Linked DNA regions of Homo sapiens: region 2 is linked to region 1. The links come from fine-mapping of genetic effects on gene expression. Tissue or cell type: whole blood. Region 1 holds a variant in brackets; the other region holds the start of a gene. All regions are shown on one strand. Distances are between the middles of the regions.

Region 1 (5,726 bases):
CGTGATTAGGTTGAAAGAGACCATGGCATCTGTCTTGGATGCATACTCTCTCTCGCTGGCTCTGGGGTAGCCAGATGCCATGCTGTGTGCTGCCCTGTGAAGAGGCATGGCCAGTAAGGAACTGAGGGCAGGAACCAGGGAAGATTTGGGGTCCTCAGGCCAGCTGCCCATTGGGAATGAAACTCTACCAACAGCCACCTGGGGGAGCTGGAAGTGAATCTCATCTTAGCTGAGCCTTCTGATGAGACTGCAGCCCCAGCTGACACCTGGATTGCAGACTCATGAAAGACCTGAAACTCTACCAACAGCCACCTGGGGGAGCTGGAAGTGAATCTCCTCGTAGCTGAGCCTTCTGATGAGACTGCAGCCCCGGCTGACACCTGGATTGCAGACTCATGAAAGACCTGAAACTCTACCAACAGCCACCTGGGGGAGCTGGAAGTGAATCTCCTCGTAGCTGAGCCTTCTGATGAGACTGCAGCCCCGGCTGACACCTGGATTGCAGACTCATGAAAGACCCTGAGCAGAGGACCCAGTTTGGCAGAGCCCGAATTCCTGACCCACAGGAACTGGGAGATAAAACTCTGTGGTTTTAATCTTCTCATTTTAGAGGTAATTTTTTTGTGTAGCAATAGGTAGCTGACAATGCACAGCTAAAATAATAGATAATTAACCCTAATGCTAGTTTCATTCATCCATCAGGGTTTGCAAAGTAGTGATATTCTACTTCTGTCTTCCTTCATTATTTATTAGCAGAAATGTATCTATAAAAAGAAGTGTTCCTTCATTAACTCTTTGGTCATGTTGAGGTACAGTTTGCATAGGAAAGGCAGGGCAAATGCTTGATTCTTTCCCTTCCTTTCCTCATTTATAAAATAATGAACTGTTTTCCTGGCATCTTTCAACAATGACTAATGAGTTTTTAAAGTATAATTACAAGTTCATGAGTTTAAACATTTTTTGATGTTCCCATTAACATTATTATCCTTATTGATATTCAGATCTTCCTGTCTTTGTCCAGTGCCAGCCTATTTGATTTAACTCCTGAGCCCCTTTGGCACTGCCCTAATAATCTTTGACAGCTACTTTGTTCTCTGGCATAAGAAGACATTCCAGAATTACATTAGACATTTCCTAACCCAGATTGGACAGCATACACTTCTCTCCAAGAGCCCCTCTTCCTCTTCAAGAGAAATGGTACTTAGAGACCACAGTCTGGGTGTTAGGTGTGCTTGTGGTTACTGGATTTGTCGTCATTTTTAGGCCTTGTCAGTGGACAGAACTAAGGCTTTTTTTTTTGAAAGACACATTATGAGTACAAATGGATACTTTCTATTTAAATTCGGATTTACATAGTTTTTACTTAATCTTATTGATAATATATCTGCATCTCCTTTCTCCCACACCAAAAATCTCAAACAATACCCAACATAGTTATTCATTTGTTTTATCCTGTAACACACACAATATTTTCAAAATGACTTTACCAACACTACCATCAACAGTATATAACCACTGAAAATAGTTTAAAATTATTTTTAGATACTTTTAAAGTCCTTGGGTTGTGTCGACGTACAGACAAAACAGTGTTTTAAAATTATTTGGAAAATGATTACTTAAAATAATGAAAACTTCTTTTGCCATTCTTTCTTGTTGTCAGGCTATATGGATATACATCCAAATGACTGGATTTTAAAATCACTTGGAAGAGTTTGGTAGGTTCATATTGTCAACCCATAATGCAAGTCAGTTAGTTTCATTTTGCTTTCAATTTTAAGAATTCCTTTTACAAGTTAATTTAATTAAATTAAGTAATTACACAAACATTTGACATGAGTCTAAATCCAAATCTAGAAACCAAGATATGGTCACAGAAGTCCGTCCCTATCCCCATCCCATTTCCACCTGTTTCCTACAGGTAACAGTTTAATTTAAAGCAAATTTTGTAGCTTATCTTTCCATTTGTAAAACATACAGCTGATGGCTCCATCTAAAAACACATCAATTGTCTATATGTACATAAACATGCTTTTTTTCATTTACAAATACATTCTGGAGATGACCATATGACAGTGTGTAGAAATATTTCTCCCTCCTCTTTGCAAGTGCTCAGTGTCCTGTGGTGTGAACACGCTTCATTCAACCTGGGCCCTTGGGAGAGATGCTGAGTGGTTCCCGGGCTGTCCCCACTCCACACCGTGGCAGTGAAGAGCTGCTGAAGTACATGCTTCATAGTCCTTGCGTCTCTCTGTGAGTACATTCCTAGAAGTGGGGTTATTGGGTCAAAGAGTAAATGCATCTCTAATTTGGCTAAAGATATTGCCAAATCCACCTGCCTGGGGGTTTGTGCCACCTTAGAGATCAGTGATCAATGGGTGATATCCGAGGACGTCTTTCTATTGTGGTCAGACTCTTGGATTTTGACCTGACTAATGGAGGAGAAATGGTGTTGCAGTGAACTTTTGATTTGTGTTTCTCTTTTTATGATCGTTTTGAGCTTAATTTGTGTTTCTCTTTTTATGATCGTTTTGAGCATCGTTTCGTATCTTTAAGGAGCAATTTACATCTCCTCTGTGAGCGTCTACTCCCATCTCTATCAGCAGGCGTCTTGCCTGGCTCCGGAGGAAGTGTCTCTGAAGGCTGGTGGTCCCAGGATAGGGCAAAAGAACGGGAGTGAGAACTCTCCACACAGTGCTTCTTCTGGGGTTAAGGACCCTCTGCCTCAGTGGCTCCTGGGCGTGATTAAACTTGCCATTTCCTGGGCCCATCCTAGACAGGCTGCTGCAAGCCAGCCAGGCCGGGATCCTGCTGCCCCGGGGAGGACGTGGGGAAAATCCCTGCTGGAGGGACTGCCCCTTCCTTGTCCAGCCACTGGGTGTTTATGGTTCAGTTTAGGGCGGGGATGACAGCACACGACACACACTCCGCTCTCAAGAGTTACTCCTCCCTCCCCGCCAGACTCCCCCAACCGGAGGTCTCCCCAGAGTGGAGGACCTTCCAGCGGCTGGCAGGCGGCCTCAGGCAGGCAGTGGGGAGCCTCTGCAGGTTCCCGAGCCAGGAAGTGGCACTTAGGAGTGAGGATCTTAGGAGCGGGGCTCTTGGACAGGAGGGCGAGTGAGTTGGGAGGGCCTCAAGCGGGG[G/A]CCCGATGGCTCTCTCTGCTGAGAAGGGAGGGCCCTAGGGATGGGGACAGAGAGCTGGCAGTTGAAGGGCCAAGGAGCAGGCAGCTTCCCAGTCACAGAGCCTTGTGCAGAGGAAGGGGAAGGAGTCCGAGAGGGTGGCCCTGCTGTCCAGGGCCAAGAAAAGGGAAAGCCGCTGGAAATAGCAGAAACCTGGCTGGGGCAGCACCCAAGGCCCACCCCGAGGCCAGGTGGGGACCCCAGCGGGGCATCTGGCAGCAGTGGGTCCCCAGGAGCAGGCAGTGGGAGCCATCAGGGTGAGTGAGCTGGCGGGGGTGGCCCAGGGGCTGGGGTCACCTGCCCTCAGCCCAAGGAGCCTCTTCTGGCCTTTGGTGGCCAGGGCTGGGATCTCCCTGCTGGTGGCCAGATGCCTCGACACCCCATAGGCTGGGTGAAGGTGGGGCAGGAGTTCCAAGGCGTGGAGACGGCCCCTGAGTGCCCAGGGGCCTCCTGCTGCAGGTGGGCAGAGCTGGAGGCTCCACTGTGAGGGTGCCTGGTGAAGGGAGGCGTGGGCACGGGGGAGGCAGGGAAGGGCCCTGGGTGCGACTTGCAGCCCCTCAGACCCTCTCAGGACCCCTCCTGCCCCCATCGTGGTCCTCTCAGGGCCCCTCAGGATCCCTTCCAGACCCCTGGGACCCCGTGTCCCCTGCTCGTCCTGCGGTGGTGCCCAGCTCCTGCCAAGGGCCCTGCACTTGGGCTGTGGGGACCCCCTGTGGGGATGGGGCCATCACAGGAGGCTGAGCACAGGGCGGGGTCTTGGCTGGAGGGGACCTTAGGCCACAGGTGCTAGTCTTCTGCAGCCACCCCCCAGGACCCCTGCCCGCTACCTCCTCTGCCCCACAGCTGACAGGCTTTGCCCTCCCCTGCCCCTCTGTGGCCACACACTCAGTTCTCTATACACTTTTATTATGGAAAACATCAAATACACACAAAAGCAGGGCATCTAGGACAGAGACCCTGTGTCCTGGTCCCCAGCCCCTCACAGTGACACCGCCAGGCTTTAGGCAAGATCAGTGGGGGAGGGGAGTTTCCCAGCAGGACGTGCACTTCCAGACCTGGTTCTGTGAAGAGGGGAACAGAAAGTGCTGAGGGTGACAGGGAAACCTCGAGAAGAGGGAGGTGTACTCACATCCTCTCTCGGGGTCCACAACTGAGCCCCCACACAGAGGACCCCACTGGTCTGCCTGAGCTGCTGGGTGGGCAAGTGAGGCACTGGCCTCGGGGGCACAGCGCTTGAAGGGACACCAGAAAAACAGTCATAAAGATAAACCGTAATGTGTTGTTTTATTTCTTATTTATTTATTTATTTATTTTTGAGATGGAGTCTCCCTCTATCGCCCAGGCTGGAGTGCAGTGGCGTGATCTCGGCTCACCACAACCTCCGCCTCCCGGGTTCAAGCAATTCTCTTGTCTCAGCTTCCCGAGTAGCTGGGACTACAGGCACGCGCCACCACGCCCAGCTAATTTTTGTATTTTTAGTAGAGATGGGGTTTCACCATGTCGGCCAGGCTGGTCTTGAACTCCTGACCTCGTGATCCCCCTGCCTCGGCCTCTCAAAGTGCTGGGATTACAGATGTGAGCCACTGCACCCAGCCAATGTGTTGTTTTAGTAAACCAAAACTATGCAAAGGACGCATGAGGATCCAAGCGACTCATTTAGGATGGCAGCTTCACTGCAAAAGGAGTCTCGATTCAGACCTCAAGACATGCTTCGTGGGTCTCACTCAGGAAGGAAGTGGAGGCAAGTCAGAATGTGGTGAGAAGAGAGGGTTTATTGAAAGTTGCTCCATTACAGAGCAGGGTGTCGTCAGAAAGCAAGAGGGGGAACACCCCAGCTTTAACTTTTTCTCATACAGGGGTCTCGTCTGTGTAAAGACTAAGCTAAACTGTGCCTAACATGTATTATTCTATTGATTTAAAGAAAACTGTCTGTCACGGGGTCTTGCTCTGTTGCAACCAGGCTGGAGTGCAGTAGCACGATCTCAGCTCATTGCAATCTCTGCCTCCCAGGCTCAGGTGCTCCTCCCGCCTTAGCCTCCTGAGTAGCTGGGATTACAGGCATGCACCCCCATGCGTGGCTGATTTTTTTTTTTTTTACTTTTTGTAAAGATGGGGTCTTGCTATGTTGCCCAGGCTGGTCTCAAACTTCTGGGCTCAAGCCAACCTCCCACCTTGGCCTCCCAAAGTGCTGGGATTAGAGGCCTGAGCCACCGCGTCCGGCCAAGGGTAGTTGTCTGGAAAGCATATATTGTTCTGGATACCAGGGCACTTGGACACTTTGCTGTCATAGAAGTGTGTCCACGCAGGCGTCACTGGCTGCTGCTTTAGCTGTAAACATCGTATGACCATGGGCTGTGGCTGGCAGGTATGTGCCTCATTGGTCTCAAGGTGGAGCTGAACGTAAACGGCTTTTCTCTGGCTCTCCCAGGCTCCTGCTTCCCTGACATCGCCTCACAGACTTCCCTTCAAAGCAGGGCTGTCCAATCTTTTGGCTTCCCCGGGCCGCATTGGAATAAGAAGAATTGCCTTGGGCCAAACATGAAATACACT
Region 2 (6,680 bases), 33 kb before region 1:
AGCCTGTTACAGAACTTCTGAGAGTTTAAACACCCTCTAGGTGATTCCATTGGTTACTTGGGGCACACGTTATGCAGATGGAGAGGATGAAGTTACAAAGTCATTTGCTTGGCCTATGTCCTATGGAGAAGGTATTTCCTATCATAACTGAAGTGTGAATCAGCCTATGTTCCCTGCACTCAGACCCTATTTTCCTGCCTCCTACCTACAGCTGTGTGGTCCTGAGCTGTCACCTCTTCCCTTTGAAGCTCAGGTTCCTCATCGGTAAAATGAGGCAGAAATACTCACTGCTGAGATGTGTGGGGATCGCACAAACTCAGTGTCTCAACATGTTGTACGTGTGTTTTGGCCCTCTGAGCCCTTGAGGGCTGCCCCAGGTGGAACCCTCTTCACTTTTCTTGGAGAACTGACCATGGGTTGCAGCAAAGCCTAAAATGGTTCCTGTTTCAGCCCTGCCTGGGAAGATTCAGCTGGAACCTTTAGGCTAGGAAAAGGTTCGAGAAGGACCCTACCCCCACTGTGCCCGACCTGAGACAAATCCACAGAAAAGCAATCCTTGCTAACTCTGGGCAGTATGTGGACAAGATACTAATTTTTAATCTCTGCATCTCCATGAGAATGCAAGGACCAGCACAGTGAAGTGCCCAATGATTGCCCCCTGAACAAACGGAGATGTCAAGTTCAGAAAAAATCCTGGCTGAGGAAGACAGGGAACATTCCCTTGAAAAACAAGGGCAGTCATCCAGACAGAGCAAGAGGAGTGGCAGGATAAGAGGAGGCAGACAGGGTTGATTCCACAGGGCTCCTCCTCAACACCCATGAACCTGAGAAGTGGTCAGATGCGTTTCAGGCCACTGGCCAGCAGTGGGGTCATGGCGGGAACTAGTCCCACCTGAAGGACTCTCATCTCCCTACAATCCCCAAACGCTGAGGCATGGGGATGCTCTTCCCTCCTTGAAGTGAGGGCCCCGAGGCTCTCATACTTTAATTACAGTACTTCAGACCAAGAGCCTGCAGTTGAGGAGGCCAGGGTCATGAATCAGCTGCCCCCCAAACTCCTTATCTCACCAACCCAAGCTGCTTACAACCCCTCCAGATATCCCAGGAGCCGGGGGGAATGTCATTCTTCAGGGCTGAGGGAACATCTTTGCACCCTGGGGTAGCAGATGGGACCACAGGGCATGTGGAATGTCTTAGTCTGTTTCACACTGCTATACCTGAGGTTGGGTTTGTTTTATTTATTTATTTATTTATTTAGAGACGGAGTCTCGCTCTGTCGCCCAGGCTGGAGTGCAGTGGTGCGATCTGGGCTCACTGCAAGCTCCGCCTCCCGGGTTCACACCATTCTCCTGCCTCAATCAGCCTCCCGAGTGAGGGGCTGGGACTACAGGTGCCCGCCACCACACCTGGCTAATTTTTTTGTTTCTTTTTTTTTTTCAGTAGAGATGGGGTTTCACCGTGTTAGCCAAGATGGTCTCGATCTGACCTCGTGATCCGCCCGCCTCGGCCTCCCAAAGTGCTGGGATTACAGGCGTGAGCCACTGCGCCCAGCCAAGGTGGGGGAATTTATTTTTTTAAAAAAGCAAAACAGGTTTATTTGGCTCAAAATTCTGGTGGAAATTTCAAGATTGGGCAGCTGCACCTGGTGAGGGCCTCATGCTACTTCAACTCAAGGCAGCAAGTAGAAGGGGAGAGGCATGCACAAAGAGATTACGTGGCCATATGGCGAGAGAGGAAGCAAGAGACAACCGCAGGAAGGCTGACTCTCTAACCAGCTCTCATGGGAACTCACCCCTCCACAAAGGACACTAACCTATCCATGAGGGATCCACCCCTATTACCCAAACTCCTCCTACTAGGCACCACCTCCTAACACTGCCTCATTGAGGCTCAAATTTCAATACCATTTTGGGCAGGGGCAGACCACATGCAAATCACAGCATGGGGTAATAGTGGGGGCAGGTTGACACAGGGCTGCTGCCTACCCAGCACCAGCTGTCTCTTGGCCCCTTCCAGATCCTGGCAATCTGGCTACAGGCATGGGCCCAGCCTTGGACACAGATGTGGCCACAGGAAGCTGTTAGCTCTCCAGATCTGATCAGCCTGGGAGAGCGGCACAACAAAGGCTCCCAAAGGAGAGTCGGGATCCTCAGCTAGCCTCAGCTCTGCTACCCACCCATATGTGCCCAGAACAGGAAAGATACGTGTTTCTTACTCCTCCGGGACTCCTAGGTGAAGCTGAGACCAGGCTCTTCTTGAGTCCTCTCAGCTATGGTGCAACCACCAGCCTAGCAAGGAATCAGAAACATCTTCCGGAAGAGTCAGCACCATAGAGGGTGCTGAATGGGCAATGAAGCATCCCGGAGATGAAACATCTGGGCAGTGAGGCATCCCACAGGTGTTGGGCTATGCAGTCACTCCCTTTCTCAGACCGAGGCAAGTACATAAGCACTCTGGGCCCCTAATCAGGGGCCTGGGGCCAGGTGGGATGAAAACAGCAGTGTCCTGCCACCTGAACAACTGCTACTCACGCAGGCCCCACCTGGCCTCTCAGAGGGAGGAACCTGGGACTCCTGAACCAGATTCAGTTTCTCCTTCAACAGCCGGGACTTTTCGCTCCTGACTGCAGAAAAACAGCTTCAATGTGACCATCCTTGATAGTCCGAGGCTGAGTAAAATGGCCTGAGGAGGCAAAATCTGAAAAGCTCTATTAGGTGGCAAACTGCTGTCACTAGAAGAGTTGAGGCCCCCTTCTCCTCCCCTGCCTGACCGCCTTCATTCCTGGGAATGGAACAGGTTCTTGGGGCAAGGGTGAATCCTCGAGCAGGTCCCAGGATCACTATCCTCACCTCCCCGCGGCACTGAATGGCTATAGCTGTAAATGTGCGTCCACGGGGTCACTGTCCAGCCACCAGGACCAGGTGCCTGGCCATCTGGGGAATCGGAAAACGCTCAGCGGGATGCTCTGGCCACCTCCCCTGCCCCCAGTTAAGATGTAGAGCGTTCAACCTAAAATGCCTAGAAACAAAGCCCAGGCCCGGGAAGGTCGAACGAGTGCGACGCCGCTCCCTCAAGCTCTTCCCTCGGAGCCGTCTCATTTCCCAAAACTCCCAAACACATCACAGAGAGAGGTGTTGAGCCAGGTGGTCACTCCCTTTTCCAGAACCACAGCAAGAAGTTGAGCCTGCTGGGCTCCTAACGAAGGCCCTGGGGCCCGGTGGGATGAAAAGCCCTATTAGGTAGCAAACAGCTGTCACTAGAGGGGTTGAGGCCCCCTTCTCCCCTGCCTGACGACGACGGCGGCAGGAACTCGACCGGCGCCGGACAGCTCGCAACTTGCCTTACCAAGCGTAAATCTCGGTTCCTCCCAACTACCCGCGGCCACGGCCTCCGCAGCAGAGCGCCGGAAGCAGAGACGCGTTTCGGGAGGAAGGTGCATGCTGGGAGCGGCGGCGCATGCTGGGAGCTGTAGTCTGCGACGCAACTCGGCCGAGGTGGCTCCCTGGTCCCTGAAGCTCCCAGAGCCCGCGTGTTCAGGCGGTCCCGACACCCCGGCCCGAGCCTCACCGGCTGGAGGACTGAACGCCTGCCGGCCCTCCGGGTATGAGCGGAGGCCGGGATAGCCCTGGGCTCCGCCGCCCCCGGAAGGAAAAAATACAGTGCGGTCCGCCGCCCGACCACGAAAGAGCGGAGCTCGGGAGCCCCGCCCCCTGGGCCTCCGACGTCCGTGGCGCTTTCCGTCGCGCGAGTGCGATTGGGCCGCCTGTCACGTGACCCGAGACCCCACGCCCGGTTGGCTGCCGCCTGGTTACCAATGGGAGACTAGCGGGCCGGCGTACTGGCCTGGTCCAGCACCTGCGGGGCCCTCGGGCTTGGAGGGCTGGGCCGGGCGGGGAACGGGCGGGGCGGGCCGGAGGCGGCGGCGGCTGACTCGCCTTCTCTCCGGGGCTGCGACCCCGAGGCAACCGGCTGCAGATGGGAGCCCGCGGAGCCGAGGATGCGGGCGGGCCGGGGCGCGACGCCGGCGAGGGAGCTGTTCCGGGACGCCGCCTTCCCCGCCGCGGACTCCTCGCTCTTCTGCGACTTGTCTACGCCGCTGGCCCAGTTCCGCGAGGACATCACGTGGAGGCGGCCCCAGGTGGGGCCGTGTGGGGTGCGGTGGGCGCCGTTTCTGGTTTCTGAGATCTCCGCTCCTCGCAGGGAGCGGGGCGGGGTGGGCGGCCAGGGTAGCTCCGAACGCAGGGTCCGCCGTTGTTCTCCTCAGAAGTGGGCGCCCGGCCCCCTCTTTTCGTACCTCCTTCATACCCCCGCCCAGAACGAGCAGGACTCGGCGCTACCCTAAGGACGCTAAACTAGGTCGTGGCCTCCGCCTGCGAGAGCTCCAATCCAGGAGGCTCAGAGCGCTGCGAGAGGCGTTTTAACAGAGCCCCAAACCCCGCCCCACCTGTTTGCTTTCGCCCTGAAGAGCGTTTGTGTCTGCTCCTCCCGCAGAGAGGGCCGCTCGTGCCCCTCTGAAGTGGCTAGGCCGAGCCCACAAAGCAAAGCGTGATAGAATTTCAGTTTTGGATTTTGTGCACCTGCCTTTCCAGTTGTAACACCTAGAAATGGCACCTCCAAGGGATGCCCTGGCCGAGTGCTGTGTTCATATTTTTAGAAATGGTTTATCTGCTGAATAAGACTGCCCAGGGAGCAACCTTGCCCTAAGTGGATGCGGTCTTAGCGGAGACAACTGATGGCCGCCAGTCTTCGAACAGAGCTGGAACTTCTGGGCTCTCGTGACTGAGATGGCTTTGACAGGCCACCTGGTTTCCTTGGACAACACTGAAGGGCCTGGGAGGAGGCAAGGGTCAGACCATGTAGAGCCTTGTCATTGGAATTTGGGTTTTATTTTGTTAAAAGATTGATTTTAGGTGCAGCTGGAGGCCACTAGAGGGTTTTGGTAGAGGAGTGGTTCTCTTGGATGTGTGTTTTTACAAGCTCACTCTTGCTGCTGGGTGGGAAGTGGGTTGTCGGGGCAAGAATGCAAGGGTCCATTGTAGTGGTCCTGGAGAAAGATGAAGGGGCTCAGATTAGCTTGACGACTGTTAGGATGTGGGTTTGGAGTAGATTGGTTTGAGACGTACCTTGCAGGGGGGATCGAGAGGCCATAGTGACTGATTGAAATAGAGGGTGAGGATAGTGGAGGGATCAACATGCCTTCTGGGTTTCTGGCCTGAACAGGTGGGTGGATGGTGGTCCTGGGACAGAGCCTGGGGGTGACCTAGAGTTGGGCTTTGCTCTCACGTCTTCAGGTGGAGCTGTCCTGGAGGCAGGTGGATCTGTCCTGGAGGCAGGTGGATACGGAGCAGGGATAGGCTAGAGGCATTCTTCTGGGAGGCGGAGCATATTAGATGGTTTACAGTCCACAGCCTGGGAGAGTGTCTCGGGGGAGTATCAGTAAAGAAGAAGGGGGCCTTGGGGCTGAGCCTTGAGGAACCCTAACATTTCTTGGGGTCAGGCAGGTGCCCTGACAGATAGACTTGAGAAGCAGCAGGCAGTGAGGGAGAGGACACCCGGGGAGCATGCGGCCTCACAGAAGCTGAGTGGGGACCACCTCAGGGGCAGCAGATGGCTGTTCTGCTGTTGTGAATGCTGCTGAGTAGTTGGGGAAGAGAGTTGGGACCAAGAGAAGCCCAGTGGGTTTGATAACATAGAGGTGACAGCGACATTGATCGAGGCAGTTTAGGGGCCATGATTGGCTCAGAAGCTAGAGGAGCCTGTGTGGAGAGTGAATGGGAAGCAGGTAGTGGGCATGGCAGCTCTTTCAAGAGCTGTAATGAAGAGAAGCCTGAAGGAGACTATGGTGCTGAGAGATAATGTCTTAAAGAACATGGGGGTGGGATTCTGCCCGGGGAGCTGGAAGGGAAGGAGTTGTGAGAGGAGCCCAGGCTCTGAGGGCAGGAGAGAGGGTCAGGTCCAGAAGCAGGAGGCAAGGTCGAAGCTCAGAGGGGTGGGCAAGGGCAGTGTGGATGTTTTGAGTAGACGGGGAGAAAGGGGAAGGTATATGATAGTTAGGGGGTGTGGGAAATGGAGCCTGCTAGAGAAACAGATTTCCAGCAGGATGGAGGACACATTTGAGATTTACCAGCATGAGTAAAAAGTGAAACTTTTCGAAGCCAACATTTAGCTGTTTTGAGAAGGAGCTTGCTAGAGTTTGGGATTTTTCCAGTAAGGAAGGAAGGCACCCCAGAATTAAGCTGGACAGAGGCATTTGAAGCCAGGAGCTGAAGGACACCCGCTGCAGGAAACCACCTTCCTGTCCCTTTTTGGGTAACACTGATGATCGGAAAAGCTCCACCCCAACTCCTGTCATCTAGAGCCTTGGGTTCTTAGTTTGAAGGGTTCCACAGCAGGCATGATCTAACTCTGGACAACTTTCTGTATCTCAGGAGATTTGTGCCACACCCCGGCTGTTTCCAGATGACCCACGGGAAGGGCAGGTGAAGCAGGGGCTGCTGGGGGATTGCTGGTTCCTGTGTGCCTGCGCCGCGCTGCAGAAGAGCAGGCACCTCCTGGACCAGGTGCGGGGCCCCTTCCCTGTGTTTGTCCTGGAGCCGGTTTCTTTTTGCGTTTCTCCAGCCTGCTGAGTACCAGGAGGCCTTGCGAAAGCAGAGCTGTGCCGCAGCCGGATCTCCTGCTGT

The links. PIP is the estimated chance that this variant, and not a neighbour inherited with it, causes the effect.
Region 2: it holds the start of CAPN10, and the variant in region 1 is fine-mapped to the expression of CAPN10 in whole blood (TOPMed, PIP 0.96).

Annotation. Positions count from the first base shown.
Region 1 is chr2:240,616,782-240,622,507 of GRCh38, forward strand. It overlaps a transcript of GPR35 not described here. Among named protein-coding and RNA genes, the nearest start is that of GPR35, 5.8 kb to the right of the region's middle. RefSeq lists enhancers at 4,773-4,832, 4,853-4,992. The variant G/A (reference allele first, on the strand shown) is at 3,141.
Region 2 is chr2:240,582,915-240,589,594 of GRCh38, forward strand. CAPN10 (calpain 10) reads left to right here and starts at 3,820. Exons shown (of 12, transcript NM_023083.4): 1 at 3,820-4,138; 2 at 6,429-6,560. The coding sequence starts at 3,998. It overlaps CAPN10-DT (CAPN10 divergent transcript), which reads right to left and starts at 3,402. Exons shown (of 1, transcript NR_103792.1): 1 at 1-3,402. RefSeq lists enhancers at 1,567-1,636, 2,007-2,376, 3,367-3,546, 3,598-3,892, 3,831-4,657 and a silencer at 3,857-4,086.